Linked DNA regions of Homo sapiens. The protein of the gene in region 1 interacts with the protein of each later gene in a pairwise test. Each region holds a gene or a part of one and is shown on either strand. Other genes may lie near its edges. The genes, in order: SYCE1L, BFSP2, EPC1 and SLC7A8.

What was found.
Region 2: the proteins of SYCE1L (region 1) and BFSP2 interact in a two-hybrid assay, tested with the Homo sapiens proteins (one large-scale study listed by BioGRID).
Region 3: the proteins of SYCE1L (region 1) and EPC1 interact in a two-hybrid assay, tested with the Homo sapiens proteins (one large-scale study listed by BioGRID).
Region 4: the proteins of SYCE1L (region 1) and SLC7A8 interact in a two-hybrid assay, tested with the Homo sapiens proteins (one large-scale study listed by BioGRID).

What each region holds. Positions count from the first base shown.
Region 1 is NC_000016.10:77,208,339-77,212,177, forward strand, and holds part of SYCE1L (synaptonemal complex central element protein 1-like), read left to right. Parts: intron 1-126; coding exon 127-201; intron 202-758; coding exon 759-806; intron 807-1,078; coding exon 1,079-1,133; intron 1,134-2,874; coding exon 2,875-2,938; intron 2,939-3,248; exon of another isoform or gene 3,249-3,593; intron 3,594-3,690; exon of another isoform or gene 3,691-3,791; coding exon 3,792-3,839. UniProt on the Homo sapiens protein: May be involved in meiosis.
Region 2 is NC_000003.12:133,405,797-133,410,981, forward strand, and holds part of BFSP2 (phakinin), read left to right. Parts: intron 1-5,185.
Region 3 is NC_000010.11:32,266,432-32,271,570, reverse strand, and holds the end of EPC1 (enhancer of polycomb homolog 1), read left to right. Parts: coding exon 1-17; intron 18-2,435; coding exon 2,436-2,508; 3' UTR 2,509-3,820; downstream 3,821-5,139. UniProt on the Homo sapiens protein: Component of the NuA4 histone acetyltransferase (HAT) complex, a multiprotein complex involved in transcriptional activation of select genes principally by acetylation of nucleosomal histones H4 and H2A.
Region 4 is NC_000014.9:23,124,211-23,129,328, forward strand, and holds the end of SLC7A8 (large neutral amino acids transporter small subunit 2), read right to left. Parts: intron 4,155-5,118; exon of another isoform or gene 3,987-4,154; coding exon 3,809-3,986; intron 3,134-3,808; coding exon 2,967-3,133; 3' UTR 1,085-2,966; downstream 1-1,084. UniProt on the Homo sapiens protein: Associates with SLC3A2 to form a functional heterodimeric complex that translocates small and large neutral amino acids with broad specificity and a stoichiometry of 1:1.

The DNA.
Region 1 (3,839 bases):
TCCTCATCTATAAAATCTAGGCCCCTCTAGGGTTGTTTGAAGATGACTGTGCAATGTCATATTTGCGAGAGAACAGCAAGGCTAGAGACTACACTCATACAGTGTCTTTTTCCCTTCTTGGCCCAGCAAAGAAGAAATCCAGTGAGGAACTGAGAGAGACCCACAGTCTCTGGGAGGCCCTGCATAGGGAATTAGACTCCTGTAAGTGGGGCCAAAAGAGGGACCCATCAACACTGCAGATGTTCCTGTGCATACCTCAGGGCCTTTGCACAGGCTGCTCCCTGGCCTACAATGCTCTTAGCTCACATAATCTGTATTGCCTTTCACTGTCTCATGTCATCTTTCAGCTCTCAGCTCAAATTTCACCCTGATAGGCCTATCTTGATGGTCTCATCTAAGAATAGAATCCCGCCCTCTCTTGGTCATTCTCACGCCCCTGGCTGATTTGTTTCTTAAGAGCCTTTATGTCCACCTGACACTGTGTGTGTATTTCTTTATAGCCATCTTTCTCCTCAGTGTAAACCTTGTACATTCTTCAGGGTCTTCACTCCTTCAACATTTACAAAGAATGTGGGCATAGAGGGGGAGAAGCTGGATCAGGATGGTCCTTCTGGGAGATGGTTGCAAGGGTGGCAAGAAGATACCTCACCTCTCCTAGGGCTGTACTACACCTTCTGTGTGGCTTTCCCCTTATATGAAGTTGCACTGGGGATGGCAATGGGGTGCCTGGAGGCAGAAAGTGTCATTGTGTTTTCCAGTGAATGGAGAGAAAGTGCACCTAGAGGAGGTCTTGGGCAAAAAGCAAGGTATTTACCAGTTGCTGTGTCTTCCTTATTCTACTCTTCCACCCCACAAAAGTCTATGCTCCTCAGAGCAGCCAGAGGAATCCCACTGAAACCTAAGGCAGGGTGCTTCCCTCTCTGCACAGATCTCTTCCTGGATTGCTACATCACTTGGAGTAAACACCCAAGTCCTCACAGTGCCCTCCAATGCCTGACATGATGTGGGGCCTATTACCTCTGGCCAACCCTGACTCCCCAAGAGCTCTCAAAGGGTCCCCTTGGTTCCTTCCCCACAGAGGCACTGAGGATCCTCCAGATGCACTGCCAAGAGAAGGAAAGCGAGGCTCAGAGGTAAGAGGCCCTGCCTCAGCTCTTCCCTACCTCATTCCCCAGCTGAAAAAGGAGGGAGCAAGAGCTGTGGAAATGAATCTTGGACACAGAAGCCTCATTTTACCTTTCTATAAAATAGAGCAGCCTGACAAAAGATTTCCTTGGTTATCTCTGATATTAAATGGTCGTGTTAAGATTAATTTACTCATTTAATTATTCGTTACTAATTTCTTTATCAAATATATTCCCTCCATTGGTCTTAGCCTCAGTCTTTTTCTGTTGGCTATCCAGCTCCTTTGATATCCATTCACTTGCTTATTTGCCTCCTTATTTTAAGCCCCAGTCATCCATTTGCCCACCCATTCATCTATCCACCCATCTAGCCATTCACCTACTCACTCATTCATCCATTCATCCATCTATCCAACCATGTCATCCAGCCAGATGGCTGTTTTATCTCCGGCCTTCCACCTAACAATCTTCCATCCATCCAATCATGCATTCATCCTCTCTTTATTCTTTCCATCATATATTCACTTAGCCAAACATCCATCCAGACATCTACCCTTCCTTTTAGCAATCCTTTCTTTCTCTGTCCAGCCACTATTCCTCTACTCATCATTTCTCCAATCAGCTATCATTTCTCCAGCCAGCAACTCACACATCCAGTCAACTGTCTATCCAACCTGTATCCATCCATCTCTTCATCCTCCCGAGTAGCTGAGATTACAGGCATGTGCCACCATGCCCGGCTAATTTTGTGTTTTTAGTAGAGATGGGGTTTCTCCATGTTGGTCAGGCTGGTCTCGAACTCTCGACCTTAGGTGATCCTGCCCACCTTGGCCTCCCAAAGTGCTGGGATTACAGGCGTGAGCTACCACACCCGACATCTTCTGAACTTTTACCTAGCACACTCCTGTTACCAGAGGTCTCTCATCCTGGTGCACCATGATTTTAATTGCATGGGGAAACCTGATGTTAGCTAATGTGTGATACTCAACCACACTACTCACACTGTATGATGAGCATTTATGCTCATTTATGTACCTAATCCTCACAATGATAATTATAGGAGTTAAGGCTAATGTCACCCTCCCATCACTACCACCATTTTACATATTAGGAAACTGAGACCCAGAGAGGTTAAGTAACTTGGCCAGGGTCTCGGTGAAGTAACAGATTAGGGTTCAAGCCAGGATGTTATAGAATCTGTGGTGCCAAATTACCACACGCCTCACAAAGCTTTCTTGGGAAGGCAGAGTTCATTCCATGGGGGACAGGATGGACAGGGTAATGTTCTCAACAGAGGCCCATGAAGGTTCTCATTCAACAGGAGAAACAAGAAAGGTGAATGCTGTGAACAGACATCCCAACTCCCACTCCTGCTGGAGTGAATGATGGGTCATTCAGAGAATATGACTGAGGGTTGTCTTTCCCTTCCCAGGAAGCACATGCTGCAAGAGTGCATGGAACAAATTTTTGCCCATAATTCTCAGGTTTCAGAGTCTCAAACAGAGGAATCTGGGGTAACTCCCAAGCCTGGGGCCTGGCAGGCCACTGTGTAGAAAGTGGGAACAGGGCTTGCATCAGGGAGAGTTTGTTGGAAGAGGTGCTACGGGAACCAAAGCTTAGAGGATAAAACCCATGAAGGGGCTCCCAGCAGAGGGAGCATGGGCAGGATCTGAAGGCCTGTGCATGAGGAGCCCCCAACAGGGTGTCAGGCCTAGCATGTGTTCTCTTATTCCTGGGTGTCGGCCTCCAGGTTGGATGTCAGAGGACAGCTGGAGGATCTGATGGGCCAGCACAAGGACCTCTGGGAATTCCACGTGAGCCATTATCATTGCCTGCAACCAAAGCCACTCCTCCCTGGCTTTAGTGTCGCACTGACTGGCCCAGAGTCCACCCCTGCCCAGGCTCAATGCCGCGGGATAGTCCTTGATTCCTTGCTTCCGCTTGCCCACCTATTCAGTCCCTCAGCTTTTATCTAAAATCAACTTACGCCTCACCATGCCCCACTGCCACACCCAGCATCACCTGCCCAGACGGGTGCAGTACCATTGTGATCCTGCTTTCCCCCTGCTCATCTAGTGTATGTTCACCTTGCAGTGGCAAATGGCAGCCCAGGGAAAGCCATGGTCAGGTCATTCCTTCATTTAGCTAATGTCAGTGGTTGCACCGGTCAGCATTTGAGGCAGGGAGGGAGGGTAGCAGATCAAAGAGTCCACGTCTTTGCTGTCCCAAGCTGGTTGGGGACGGTGGAGGCACCAAGAAAGTTAGTGGCTAGATCGTGGAACTTCAGTGGGAAGGCCTCTAAGCAAGTGACATCTCAACGCAGAGGTGAAGGAAGTGAGGGAAGAAGCCGTGCAGGTATCGGTGCAGAAGGAAGGCCCTGGGGCTGGACGGTGCCTGAAACCGTTGAGGAGCCGCAGATTGGGGAATGGAGGATGAGGAGAGTGGGAAGAGTTCAAGTTTGAGAGGTGCCTGGAGACATGGAGAGCGTTTAGGGGGAGGTGGGTGGGTCTCCAGCCACAGCAGGAACTGCACATTGAGTTAATAAATAGTTGAATGAATGAATGACCTAATGTAGGTGAAGACTTCGCGAGAAGCACAAAAGGGGAGGGGCGGGCCGTGTAGCCAAGAGGACGGCCAAACGGGGAGGCCTCCTCTTTGTCCTCGCAGATGCTGGAGCAGCGACTGGCCCGGGAGATCCGTGCCCTGGAGAGAAGC
Region 2 (5,185 bases), on another chromosome or scaffold:
ACCAGAGAAAAGTCCGTTAGAGAGATTCATTCCTCTTAGGAAGAGTGAGGTATATGATTGGAAGAAATATTTTGATGGGAGAGGGGGAGAAGGAGGCATGAGCCTGCTTCCCAAGGGTCTTGTTCATATAATACAGGTGGCCACTAAGCCTCTTTATTTATTTTTATTTATTTATTTTTTGATATGGAGTCTCACTCTGTTGCCCAGGTTGTGGCGCAATCTCGGCTCACTGCAACCTCCGCCTCCCGGGTTTAAGCGATTCTCCTGCCTCAGCCTCCCAAGTAGCTGGGATTACAGGTGCCCACCACCATATCCAGCTATTTTTTTTTTTTTTGTATTTTTAGTAGAGACAGGGTTTCACCATGTTGGCCAGGCTGGTCTCAAACTCCTGACCTCAGGTGATCCACCAGCCTTGGCCTGCCAAAGTATTGGGATCACAGGCGTGAGCCACCGTGCCCAGCCAGTCACTAAGCTGCTTTCTAAGAAAGGTGGTTTCTGGAAGTTGAATGTGTCTGGAAAGCAAGAGAACTGCTAAAGAAAACAGAGGGAGACTAGGGTGTGGCACTCAGGGCCTCTTTCCATGCCCCTCTCATACACCACACTCGGCCACTCTTAAACCTCTTAAGATCTCTTAAAATGTGAGTTCCATGTTGGGAAATGGAAGACAGGGGGTGGGGTCAGTTTTCCATGAAAACTAGGGAAAATTAGATGTGATGCAAAGACTGGGGATTTTGAAGCCAGACAGCCCCTAGCCTTGCCGCTTGCCATCTACCAACCGTGTGATCTTGAGCCAAGGTCTTCATTGATCTCTGCATCTCAGTTTCTCATCTGAATAATGAGGATGATTAGAGACTTCCTTTGACATGATAAAATATCTCTAAGAAGGAAACACTAGGCCTTCCACAGAAATTAAGAATGAGAAAAAGATGCCCGCTCTCTCTCGTTGGTTAGAGGCAGTAGTCAATATGATTAGACAAGAGAAAGTACTTGGTATAAGAATTGGAAAGAAAGAGGGAAAAATTTGGTCTTTCTGGAAATCCCAGAAGGAACAATGTAAAAACTATACGACAAAAAATAAGATGATTTAGTGAAGTAGCACGTTATAAAATAACATCAAAAAGCAATGCTGAGGCTGGGCATGTGGGCAAATGCCTGTAATCCAAGTACATTGTGAGGCCAAGGCAGAAGGATCACTTGAGCCTGGGAGGTTGAGGCTGCAGTGAGCCATGATTCTACAACTGCACTCCAGCCTGGGTGACAGAGCAAGACCCTGTCTCTAAAAGAAAAATAAATAAATAAATGCTGCTGGGCATGGTGGTACAAACCTGTAGTCCCAGGTATTCAAGAGGGTGAAGCAGGGGGATTGCTTGAGCCCAGGAGTTCAAGACCAGCCTGGGCAACAAAGCAAGGGCCATCTCAAAACAAATAACAAACAATGCTATTTATATATAAACAAAAAGATAAAAGAGATGAGAAAATCTTATTTATGATAGCGTAAGATGAATCACCTCTAAACTTCAGAAATGTCCAAAGTCTATATTAGACAACAATCAAATCTATCTGAAACACACAAAATAGTCTTGAACAAATGGAAAGAAACACCATGCACTCAAATAGACTCAATAGCATAAAGATGTCTCTTCTCCCTAAGTTAATGTATCAATTTAATGCAATCCTAATTTTTAAAATTCCATTTTTTTTTCTAGAGTTAGATGAGTTGATTTTAAATTCCCTTTGTAAGAACAGAAAGACAAGAATGGCCAGGAAAGAAAAACTAAGAAAGAGTGGAGGGGAGGAGGCTGGGGAGGGGACCAGCAGCCCCGCCAGACATTAACATATTATAAAGTCTCTGTAATTAAAATAGTTTAGCGTTGGCACAAAAAAGATGAGAAAACCATGGAACAGAATAGAACATTCTATAGTAAGCTCTACTGTGTTTGGAAATTGAGTATTGATGAAGGCAGCATTTGAAACCAATAGAGGGAAGGATGGACTTTTTAATAAGTGATATTCAGACAACTAGATAGTCATAAGGAAAATAATAAAATTAGATCCATTTCTTGCTGTACCCTAGGGTCAGTTCTAAATGTATCCTAGATATAAAATCAAAAATGAAACCATACAAGTAGAAAACATAGGTGAATTCCTTTATAACTTGGATGTGGGAAAAATTTTTCTTGTTACAATTCAAAATACAAAAGCAACAAAGGAAAATATTGATAAATTTGATTAAGAAAAATTTTAAAATGTTGCATTTCAAAATATCACCATAAGCAAAATTAAAAGATAAATGACAAACTAGAAAAAAAAATGCAATGTAGGATACAAAAGGTTAAAATAGCCCTATTTTATACACAGCATTTAAAATTTGAGGTTAAAAAAAGCCGATAGCACTCTTTTATTTTTAAATGTTAGAGATATGAACAGACAGTTGACACAAAAAATAGATGAAAATGGCTCCTAATGTCTCAACTGCACTCATAATAAGAGAAATTTTTAAAATCTACCTGAGATACCACTTTTACCTATCCAATTAGCAAAACTCTAAAAGTATGTCAAACTATTTGTTGGTGAAGCTCTAGGGAAACAGGCAAGTTTATACAGTGTTGATGGGAATAGAAAATGTTACAACCCCTATGGAGAAAAATTTGGCAACATCTAGACAAATTATATAGGCATTTATGTATACATAATTTGACCCAGCAGTCCTGTTTCTAGGACACACTCCCAATGACACACTGGCAAAAATATGAACAAGAAGTATGTACAAAGCTGTTCACTGCAATCCTATCTGTAATACCAAAATACTGGAAAAATCCAAATACCTCCCAGGAGGGGACTCGTTGAATAAACCATGATGCATCTGCAAAGGAACAAGAAATCGCTCTATAGCTACTATGGAGTGATGATCTCCAGGATATGTTATTGAGCTAAAAGGCAAGATGGAAAGAGTGTGTATTTCATTCTACCATCTAGCTAAGAAAAGGGAAGGATATGAATATATACATACATATGTGTTTACATTGAAAAAATGGAATAAAACAAACCATAAGTATTTTTAAATGTTACTTATAGGAGGGTGGAGGGGAAAAAGTAGCAGGGAAAGGTAGGGCACTAGAGTTCTTCTAATTTATCTTGTTATGTGGAGATGACTTTGGAACCATGAAAATATTTTACAGAATTGTATAACAAAAATAGATTTCAGAAAGCCAATTCTAAGAATCAAAAATAAAAAGAAACAAATGAATCCAGCTATGTACCAAGTTGATAGCATAGTCACACGAAGAAGAACTATTCCAAGTGGCTTTTTAAACCACAGGAATTTAACTGTACATTCCTAGTGGAGATGCAAAAGACAACAGAAAAAAACCCAACAATTTTTCAGTAATCACATTGGTGGTGGTAGCACTGGCACTGTTATTCTGACACTGGTGTGTGTGTGTGTGTGTGTGTGTGTGTGTACTGTGGGACAGAGTAAGAGAGTAACTATATTTGTGTTATTGAAAACTGAGACTTGAATGTGAGTGAAAGGAGATACAGTTGTAAGATGCATGACGTTTAGTGACAATTCTTTAGTCTTGAATTTAAATCAGAATTATCAATATAAAGTCATGATATATGTGATCATGAAAATAAATATATGCCTATTTCCAAGTCTGACCACTGAAAAGATCTAGAAGCAATGGCCAACTTAGCGACAATGAACATTTTTAGCCTCAGATTTGGGTCTCTAACAACCATCTTTCACTAAAAGAATGGGGGGCTCCTTGTAGAAATGGCTGAATCCAGGTTCGAGGATAGGAAATATTCAAGACGAGTCTGAAACACCTTGTCATACCAGAAAGCAAGGACGCTATGAAAAACTACTACAGTCATGTCAGAAGACTTAGGAGTCAATTCAAAGAAGCTCCCACTAACCAAAGATGGTTGGGAATCAATAAGAATATTATCAGGGCTTCCAGTAAGGTGAACAAGAAGACATCCATGTGCTGGGAGGGTGGCTACCCCAACTCCATGGGGACAGAACTCCTGTGCTCAGGACTCTTCTACACCTCATGCTGTGGAATCTAAAGCAACAGCAAAGCTGAGGTCCAACTGCCATAAGGATGGACACCAAGGAGGCTGCACTGGGGAGAAAAAGAAGTCAAGATAAGCAACATGAACCATAAAGCCCGGACCGTGGCGGGTATGAAAGAACAAGAAAGGCGGGATCAGGAAATTCAACAGGACGAAGTTGCCTTCCCACCTAGCTCTCTTCTCTTTGCTGAGCCATACAAAACTACTAGCAAGGAAGATAAGTTATCGAGTTGTATCCAGAGTAGGCTTGGAAACTATGGTGAAATGAAAGATTTTATAGGAGACAAATCTATACCAAGGCTTATTGCAGTTTCCAAGCCTACGGTACCACCTATAACAGATGAAAATGGACCCCAGTAGGACCTCTGCACCCAGCATTTCTGTCCCAGAAACAGTCCTCAGGCTTACAGAGTGGACATAGTAGCCAGTAGACCGGTGCAGGTGGCAGCAGTGGCACTAACAGTCGTGGCCAGAGACATGACTGTGACTCACATAGCAGTAGTGGGAGCAGAAGACCAGAGAAAAATGTCAGCATGGATCACAGCACTCCAAGCCGCGCTCTTCCAGCCCTGGGAAACCCCAGGCTGTCTCTTCGTTAAGCTCCAGTCATTCCAGCTCTCATGGGAATGATCAGCATAGCAAGGAATATCAGCGCTCCAAATCACCTGGGGACCCTAATGCAAACGGGGATTCTCCCTCTCACGTATCTTTTCCAAGTGGGCAGCACTCAAATCAGTCTTTCCCACCTTCGTTGATGTCAAAGTTCAGTTCAATGTTACAGAAACCTATTGCCTGTGTGCAGCCCGTGGGCGGACAGGAGTCCGTGGGCGGACAGGAGTCTGTGGAACCAGAGCTGTCCTCTGAGCGCTACAGTAGCCAATCCCATGGTGACAGCACAAATGAGCTGCAGCCCAGCAGCAAAGCACATCTCGCCAGGCTGAAAATACCTTTCTAACCGCTGGACCTAAGTCACACATTCAGAGCTTTTAATATTGTGACTATGTGAAGCAATTGAACATGAAATTCTGATTGAACTTGAACTGCCTTTTTGCCTTAATAGTAAAGAATGTAAAAGTTTAGAGATGTTTTAAAGTTTAAAGAAAGACTT
Region 3 (5,139 bases), on another chromosome or scaffold:
GTAGATTCAGTTCCAAGGTGAGTAGTTATTTTTGCCTAACATACCTGGAATAAGAGATCTAACTTCAGTCCTCCAGCATCGTTCTTTACCTATTTCTTTGTGTTTCTTGTTCTTTTCCTTTTATACATTGAAAATGTATAGTTGAGAATTGATCACTTATTTATTCAAGAACTAAACAGTTCTTGAACACTTAATTCAATATTAAGAATTTGAACTAACTGGTATAGTGAATGTTGCATATATGATTTGGAACATCCCTTTCTTACTATAACAATAGTTATACCAGGTGCAGTGGCTCACGCCTGTAATCCTAGCACTTTGGGAGGCAGAGGCAGGCAGATCACCTAAGGTCAGGAGTTCGAGAACAGCCGATCCAACATGGTGAAAGGCCACCTCTACTAAAAATACAAAATCACCCGGGCATGGTGGCGCATGCCTGTAATCTCAGCTACTCAGGAGGCTGAGGCAGGAGAATCGCTTGAACCTGGGAGGTGGAGGTTGCAACCAAGATCGCACCATTGCACTCTGGCCAGGGCAACAAGAGCTAAACTCTGTCTCAAAAAAAAAAAAAAGCGTATAATGCTCTCAGTTTTCTTCCGTCTTTGGATGGAAGGAGTTCTCCTGAGAGCGTTTCTTTTATGACTTTTTTTCCACAGCTTCTCATGTAAACAGGTAGAATTGATAGAAACCCCTGCCCCATCACTGGTATGCTAAGCTATTCTTTTTTTTTTTTTTTTTTTTTTTTTTTTGAGACCGAGTCTCGCTCTGTTGCCCAGGCTGGAGTGCAGTGGCACAATCTCAGCTCACTGCAATCTCTGCCTCCCAGGTTCAAGTGATTCTGTCTCAGCCTTCTGAGTAGATGGGATTACAGGCATACACCGCGATGCCTGGCTAATTTTTGCATTTTTAGCAGGGACGGGGTTTCACCATGTTGGCCATGCTAGTCTTGAACCCCTGACCTCAGGTGGTCAGCCTGCCTTGGCCTCCCAAAGTGCTGGAATTACAGGCATGAGCCACCACGCCCGGCGTTAAGCTATTCTTATTAATGTAAAGACTTACAGTATTCATGCCAGGTCAACTCTAAATTGAACCATTATTTTTTGTGCTAACTTGCCGTCTTGGATTTCAGTAGACAGTTGAGAATTTTGCTTATGCTCTATTATGTTGTAGAATTAAGGGTAGTTAAAATCCTGCTGTCTACAAGGTACTGTGGGAGAAACAAAAGAAAAAGACAGGTGTTTTCAGTTTAGTTAGCAGACAAGCATAAAAGAGTGAGAAGTCCAATAATGCTAATTGTAGATATCACAAAGCATTATATACTTGTTAAATTAATTGTATAGATGATGGCTGTAATTCAGTATAAGGAGAAATCTTTTTTTGCACAGGGAATTCTGGGACTCTTCTAACAAAATAAGATCAGATCCAATCTGTGTTAGTCTTCGGGCAAAGAGGAGAAAGAAAAAGCATTTCTGGCAGGTGGAGTGAAATACAAATTTGAGGCTGAGTGAAAATACAAAGTTGAGGAAATACAAGTGTTTAGAAGTTAACAAGTAAACTGGTTTTTGTATAGGCTCAGGAAGGTTAGTAGTTTAAATTGGAATGGCAGGAGAAGCCATTCCAGATTCCTGGAGCACTTTAAATGCCAGACTGGTAGACTGTCTCAGCCAGGAGTGGCCCAGAAGAAAGCAGGGTTTGTAGCAATGAACTGTGGCCTGTAGTTTCCAAACCATGCATCTGCATCTGCTTCTGAATTTAAGTAACAGTCATTGTCTGCTTAATGCCAATCCATTCTTAATAGTATTCTGGGTCTAATTATATAGCTCATCTGTCAGCTATAGTTCTGACTCATATCATGATTTTACTGCTCTAGAATTGTTTAACCATGGAATATTTGCCATGTATAGAATTTTCATATCACATGTCCTTTTGTTTTTAAAGATGAAGAAACTGAGACGCAGAGAAGTTAATGTATTTCTCTAAGGACACTCAAAAGTCTAGACTGTAGAACCACTAGGGCCCTCGAGCTCTGTGGCTGTGCCACTCAGCTCCATGTATTAGACTGATTTAAAGCCTGACACAAATCTCAGTTATGTTTGTTTCCTTTTTAAAAACTCTTTTGAAAGGTTTAATAGAGAAGGAACTTGAAACAACAATTACTAAAACATGGGAATTCTTTGTTTTTAACATCTAGGTTGCTTGAGTACTACTATAATTTTGATGGTAATGTAGTTGACTGTGGAATTTATTTATAGTCAACATTAGCCTGATTTCTGATAATAAACTATAAAGATTCGTATTCCTCTACTTGCTAGCTTGTTCCCAAAGAGTCCAATTTCTTCCTGTTAATAAAAATAAACTTTTTGTTGGGAAGATAATGTTCATTTGCTGAATATTTATGTTGTAGATAAGTAATTGATTGAACTTTATTTCAACAGGGAAAATCATGAATCAGAAAAGCCAGCACTGAACAACATAGCAGACAACACAGTAGCGATGGAGGTGACGTAGCTTCCTCCGAGTGGAACTGCAGCCTGGGGACTTGATTAGGTGCTATGCATCAGTAGCATTTTGAATGCAAGGGATGATGGAAAGCAGCACATGCGTTTCTGTGGCAGCTGTGGGGACTTGACAGCAATGCTCATCTCTCATGCTTCAATTTTTCTTTTCTTACTGTTAATAGGAAAAAAATCAACATCTGTAAATTAAGAATACAGCAATTATCTGTACAGTACTGCATATTTGTAATACCCTTGTATATATGTTACTTGAATACAGAAATGTTCATTTGTGATGCTTTGCACTTGGGGGTGGGGGGTGGGAGGGAAATCAATTGCAACAAAGAGTGTGAGATGTGAGATTGTATAGAGATGAAGTGTCATCACATCATGTGCATGGTGCGGAACCTGCTGTTTTATCTATTTATTGTGCCGTGTTTACAGTTTTTTGTACACTGTACCTTCATTGGTTCCTGTGCTGTAGTAAATGTGTTAGGTAGCTGTGGACTCCTTGGTATTTTGTAAATGGTATAACATAACTTGGTTCCCCTCTGGGTCCTTGAGTTTTCTGTGTATCATGTGAAAAAAAATGGTGACATACATACAGAATTTTACAAAAAAAAAAAAAAAAAAAAAGGCATCAGTTTTTTTAAAAATGGGGAATGTACTATTAAATGGGGATCTTCCTGGTCTACTATCATTAGGACAAGTAACAAGCTAAAAATGAAGTCTCTTGAATCTTTCCATCCCCAACTTGCCCACAAAGCTGTGGGTGGTTTCTGGTACTTAAAGCACTAATATTATGTTGCTGCTCTGCGAACAGCCCAGTAGTCCCATTTCCTTCCACACCAAAAAGTGTTAAATCAAGTATGCAAATGGAGTCCTTACAACTGGAGTTTATGTTGTCTTGCCCTTTTTTTAGCACAAAAAAAATTGTACTTTTTTATTGTCGAATTGTTTAAAAGACTTCATTCTTTACTTGTTCTTACGAAAAGGATATAAGGGAGAAGAATGCAGTAATTGCTGTACGTGTATCATCATTCCAGTTTCTAAAAACAGCCAGCCAGCTTTTTTCCTTTTAAGATTCTCCAGAAGGCTGCAAGGCCAGAACCACAAATATCGGGTGCCTTCCTTTGGAAATATTTGACCTCTCTTCTGTGAAGAGAATGGTACTTAACAGACTACTACTAGTGCTTTGTCAGTACCGAAGTCTGAATGCCCAGTCCAATGGCATACATTATCCTTAAGGTTTTTAATCCCACCTGGAAAAATTGTGATAGAATTCTCACAAAATAAACCCAGGGCATTACATGTTGACAAACTAATGTGTAGTGGTCTTTTGCTTTTGTTTTCAACCCAAGAACCTCTGTGTGACTTATATTAGAATCATTCCATAAAGGAGGGGATGGAAATGGGGGGTGATGACTTTAAGTTCATTTTCTTCAACAGTTACTTACTGAATGACTGCAATGCCTGGGACCACTTTAGGTCCTACAACTGTGGGGAAAATAATTCCTGCCCTCATGGAGCTTATACTCTCATAGGGGGAAAATAAATAAATAAATGCATTTAAAATATATTACGACCAGTATTTGGAAGAAAAGTGAAGGAAGGGAACAAACAGTGCCCGGGAAGGCTGGAGGTTGCAGTTTCAAGTAGGGTGGTCAAGGAAGGGCCCACAGGCAGTTATGTTTCATCAGAGACTGGAAGTTAAGGAAAAATATTCCAGGCAGAGAGAAGTACAGAGATCCCGAGGTGGTAGTGTGTCTACTGCACTGGATAACACCGCCAGGGCTGGAGGGAGCTGGGGTAGGGCGTGTCGGCCACAGGGAGCCAGCTCACAGTGGACTGGGGGATGATTTAAGGACATTAGCTTTTCCTCTGAGAAAGGAGTTTGGAGCCATGGAGTGACATGGTCTGAAGAGGCTCACTCTGGCTTTGTTATTCAGAACAGACTGCAGGAGGAGCCCAGTTAGGAAGCTAGTTGCAGTAATGCAAGTGAGAGACAAGGATAATAAGGCCGAGGATGGTAGTGAGAAGTGATTGGATACTGTTCTTTAAAGGGACCTATTAAAATTTGCTTACTGAATTTAGATGTAAGGGGCTTGAGAAAGAGAAGAGTTAGGATGACTTCAGGGTATTTGGCCTGAGCAACTGACCACAGGTGGAAAGCACTGTGGGAGGAGTGGGTTTGCGAGATCCAAAATTCAGCTTCACACTGTTAGACATCCAAATAGAGATTTCAAGTAGGTGGTTGCATATATAAAAGTATGGAGTTTGGAGGAGAGGTTTCAGCTGGAGACCAAAACTTGAGAGTCATCTTCATCATTGAAGTTCAAAGCCATGAATTTGGATGCGATCACCAAGAGTAGAATCAAATCTGTAAAACAGCTGCCAATGATAGGGTGTTCCACTTACTCTTGACTTTAAGAATTCCTTGTCTCTAAAGGGTAAACTTCCAATTTGCATAACTTTTTGTTTATTCTGTTCTGTATTCTTTAAGGAGAAAATACAAAAAGCTGCCTTTTTCTAGTGACTGATCAGAGTGACTAAAATGTAAACGGTAAATTACTGGCTTAAATGTACTCAAGAATAATTAGGATTGAAATTTCTGAAATCCAACAGATAGAGCAAGGCCTGGGTC
Region 4 (5,118 bases), on another chromosome or scaffold:
GTTAGTCTGCAGGCTTTCAGTACGGTGCACAGAGCAGGAACTTAATAACACTTCATGACTCCAAGAAGGAGTGAGACAGTGTTGTTAAATAAAAAATTACAGAAGGCCATGGTTTTGGACTAAGCTCCTGCCCTAGGCCCCACAGACCAGGCTAAAAATCAAAATAGAATCACCCATGCTAAAGTTCCACATCACCAAATCTAAACTAAGTTGTTATCTGACCTTCCTAGAAATCAGGAGAGAGACATAACAGCCAATTAAAACAGGCCAGTTTCAATATTCAATGGACATGATAATGAAGTTCCCTCTGCTTTAATCTTTACACAAAACAAGGCAGCCTGAAGGATCCTGATATGAACTAATCAGTTATTTTTCTATTGTTCCGTCTCCCTGTCCCCACCTTACAAGAAAAGTAAATTTGTTTTTGTTTTTGAGACAGGGGCTTGCTCTTCCGCCCAGGCTGGAGGGCAGTAGCGCAAGCATAGCTCACTGCAGCCTCGACCTCCCAGGCTCAACCCATCCTCCTTTCGGCCTCGGCCTCCCAAGGAGCTGGGACCACAGGCACATACCACCATGCCCAGCTAATTTTATCTTTTGTAGAGACGAGGTCTTGCTATGTTGCCCAGGCTGGTCTCAAACTCCTGGGCTCAAGAGATCCTCCCTCCTCGGCCTCCCGAAGTGCTGGGATTACGGGAGTGAGCCGCTGTGCCCGGCCAAGAAAAGCAACTTCGAAAAGTGACTAACCAGCTTTCTTCAGCCCTCCCTGTCTGTAAAGCCAACCTCTTCTGCTCAACTCATTGGAATATGTATTCTATTTTATGGAATGAAGTGTTGCCTGATTCCAGAATTACAGTAAACAATTGAGATCTGTAAATTCGTTGTACTTTTGTCTTTTGATGTTTTTGGTTCAGAATGAGAGTCAGTGGTTTGAATGCACTGGCATTGAGTCCCTAGGATAGCTAGAAGTTACAGAGAGCGAGAGCTTTTAGGAATGTCATTCTGGAAGGAACCTGGCAAGATCTCCTAAGAGGAAATGCCTGGTGACTCTGTCTCAAAAGGTTACTTAATTACCAACACCACCAACTTCATTTCCATTTTAAATTTTATTACATCAAAAGAAAAAAACCTCTCCACAAAACAAATCTCTAAAACCTACACCAAACGAAAGAAATTATCATTAAGGTTCTAACTCCATCCCCCAAAACAACCTTACATTAAAAAAAATCCAAAAGAAATAGAAATACCAGCTTCAAAAATATTTATCCAAAAAGTAAGGCATCAACTTTACAAAAAAATAATTGAAGGAGGGGAGGAAGTTGGAGGAATGAGAAAAGAGGGAATAAGAAGATGGTCCCCTGACCCTCCAGGGGCCAACCCCAGCCTGCCGGGCATCTACTCTGAAGGGGTCACAACTCAGACCAAACTTGGCATCTCACCAACTATGGGGTGGGCAAGCTGGGCGGGGAAGCTGGGAGACACCATCCAGGCCAGGAAGGGCTCCTGTGTATTCCAGTTTAAGCAGACAGAATTCGGGGTGGGGGAGAGAATCCCGATTTGTGATAAAAGGATCCTAAGTCCTTAGTGCAGCAGGAGTGGCTGGGAAGGTTGCAGGGCCCACAGCAAACTCCATAGCCTTCCTTTGAAGCCCAGGGAAAGGTCAGAGGCTGCCAGCCACAGAGGAGGGCCTTTTTTGAGGATCTCCAGAGTGGGCGCCCTGCTGCCACTACCCTTTCACCCTGCCCCAAGACAGCATGACACTGAGACCTGCGAGGAGTGGGGGATTATTGGAGTTGGGGATGGATGGGAAAGGAACTGGGCTTCAGCCAATGCTCTCCTCAGTCTCCCAGGGTATGGAATGGGCACCTCTAGGGAGGGGGAAAGCACCCTTCCTCCCAGGGAAGGCATTTAATATCAGATCCGTCCTGAGGGTTAGAAATAGGGGAGTATTTTTAGGCCAAGTTCTTGGATGGGAGGTGACTTAAGGCTGATCTGGCTCTGATCTCAGGCCTGAAGGGCTTGGGGATCCTTCGTACCTGGTCCCAAGCCAAGGCCCAGAGAGGAGAAGTGCACGGTGGGGGCGGTGGTGCTGGCTGTGTGCGGGTGTGCTGGGAGTGGCTGCAGGGATAGCAGGGGACTGCTCCTTCCTGCGGCGGGCAGGTGGAGTTGCTGAGCAGCTTCGTCATTAGGAGAGAGATGCCCACTACCTTAAAAATCAGAAGCTTTTTGGCTTCTGGAAGCTTTGGCACCATGTTGGGGGCTGGATGCAGGAGGCAGGGGCAGGGCTGGGTTTCTGCAATCTGAACCTTTCTCAATATGTTCCTCAACCGCCTGGCTTGGGGGTGGAGAGGCTGTTCTTCTCCTTGGTCCTTAGCTCTGGGAGTTGGCGTCCTGAGGAGAACCGAATTCTGGACAGGGAGCCCTGGCTGGGGTGGGTGCAGGTATGATGGGGAGGGGCAGGAAAGAGGGCAGAGGGAAGCATCCCCTTGGATTTTGGGTCCCTGGTGAACAGATAGGGTCTTGGGTCTCTCCAGCTGACCCCTTGATGGGGACAGAATTGCTTGAGCCTGTCCCCCCACAATGCAGCTCCTGTGGCCTCTCCTCTCTGAAGGGGCCTCCCTGGGAGGGAAGGCAGTAATGAGCTCCGGTTCCTGAAGAGGCAGCTGAGGGTGTGGCCCGGAGGGAGGTCCTGCAGGGCACCTTGGCATCTCCCCTCTCCTCCAGCAGCTGGGAGTGTGGGCAGCACTGGAGTGGGGCCTGGGACATGGACCCTGGGGTGAGAGGCTGGTTCTTTGGGTATGAATGTCAGTTTTTGTTTACAATTTCTCACCACCCACACCAAAGTCCTACCACTGCCTGACAAAAGCAGAGAGAGGGGTGTGTGTGTACTCGCATGTGTTGGCAGGACCAAGGCAGGGAGGTAGGATAAAAGGGGGAGGAAGGAGAGAGTAGCCAGGGAATGGTGGTCCTCAGGGCTGGGGCTGCCCCGCCACGTCCTTGTCCTTCGTGGGAGTGGGTTGGTACATGGGCTGCTGCTGCTCCTCCATGTCCTCATTAGCCTCCTCTGTCCCTGAGCCCCGCTCCACCTCGGGGTACACGACCACACACATCTTCTGGCTCACCAGGGTTAGCAGCTCTGTAGGAAGAGATCACACAGAAACCAGGCCAATGCTGAGTATCCCACCAACCTGGCCAAGTGGCCCCGGCCCTTCCTGGCTCTCCTGCTCCAGGTTCTGCCTCTTCAGAGCAGTCAGTGCGTTGAAGAGAATCCTCGCCACCTGGTCTGCCTCCTGCATCTCCCGCCGGCTACTCTTTGCTTATGAAGGCCCCAGCCTTCCCACCTTCCCTGTGCCCACTGACCCCTAAGTCCAGGGTCTCCTCTGGTCTCCACCCAGCCTCGGGCAGCTCTCACAGAATGGCTGACAGGTTGCCTATTTTATTTTAAAATTTTTAATAACAGAGATGGAGTCTTGCTATGTCGACCAGGCTGGTCTCAACCTCCTGGGCTCAAGTGATCCTCTGTCTCAGCCTCCCAAAGTGCTGGGATTACAGGCGTGAGCCACTGTGCCCAGCCCAGGTTGCCTATTCTTGCGGGTCTAAGGTCTGTGTGGAAATGCCAGCTGTTCTCTACCCTCAGAGGTCTCTGGGAAAAGGCATCTGCTTCCCCTGCTCTGGACTCTTCCAGGGCTCTGTGGACTGAGGAGAAGGTGAGCCTAGATCTCCTGGCCCTGGTGGCTCCCCAACCCCATCACTGACCACTGCATTCCAGCCCAGGAGGCCCTGAAGCCAGCCAGAGCCTCCAACAACTCACCAATGAAGTCACTGAAACACTTGGGCTTGTGTTGCCAGTAAACACCCAGGAAATAGACAGGCACTCCTGTCAGCATGATGGCCAGGCCAATGCCACACACCACCGGCTCTGACCACAGGCTGAAGACCAGCAGGAAGGCCCAGAACAGCAAGTAGATGATGGGGAACAGCAGGTTGATCTGTGGAGCAGAGGCATGAGGCGTATGAACTGTGTAGGCCACGTGGCCCCCAGGACTAGGGACTGGGGCATTCTCTCTCTTCTTCACCCACAGAGACACATCCTCAAGGGCAAAGGCTGGGCTTCCCTCGGCTCTGTGGTCCCACACTCACCCCTGGTAGGGCAGGGGCTATATAAACAAATGTTGATGAACATGGTCGGTCAGACAGGAAGAGGATGGGGAGGAGTTAGGGAGGAAACGATCCTCCTTGCCCATGTCCTCGCTCTTGGGTGTGGTTAGACAAGGCCTCATCATGCATGCCATGTGCCCGTGGCAGCCAGAGAAGCCCACAGGGATGGAGAAGCTTGCTGGCACATGGGTGTGTCTGCTGAGGTCCTAGGGTGGAGGGGAGGTGTGGCAATGCACAAGGTGCAGGCAGGAGACGATTCGAGTCACTCAGGCTCCCTGGTCCTTGCCCACTTCTGTGCAGGGCCCTTATGTGGGCACAATATGGCAAATGTCAGCTCCTTATGGGCCACATGTGGGGAGTTCCTGAGAGTATCCTCTTCAGGGCTCCAGGGGCAGTCCTGATTCGGCTGCCTTTCTCTTCCTTGTCTTCCTCGCTCAGAAGGGATGTGTGTGGTGGGGACATGGGGTTATTCTACCTCCTCTTCCCTCTAGCAGATTTTCTAAGTGTGAGAGTAGAAAATGGCGGTGGAAATGCCAGTGAGGAACTGAGAGATTTGGAGAGCCTTTGATTTTTCAGCTGGAAGGATCTTCTAGAAGCATCTAGTCACTGTTTCTAGAATAGGATTGTTCAAATAGCTCTGGAGTACACTCTATTCTTCTAATTCGTAGGAGAACTCATAATGCTCTAGCATGTCCTGTTCTGAGCAATCCCTTTAATTCCTATCACAGAGTTATATCTTGTAGCAATATTAGGTTCACTGAGCACCCTATATGTGTAGGACTGTGGGAGTTTATAAAGGGAGGATCATGGGAGGTTGCAGTAGACTGGAAGACTTCAAGAAAGAGGAGGTACTTGAGGCGCATTTGGAAAATGGTTAAAATGTAGATGGGCAGATGGGAGGAGGAAGTCATTCTGGGATGGAGACATAGCACATAGTGAACCCAGCTATCTGGAGGGACAAGG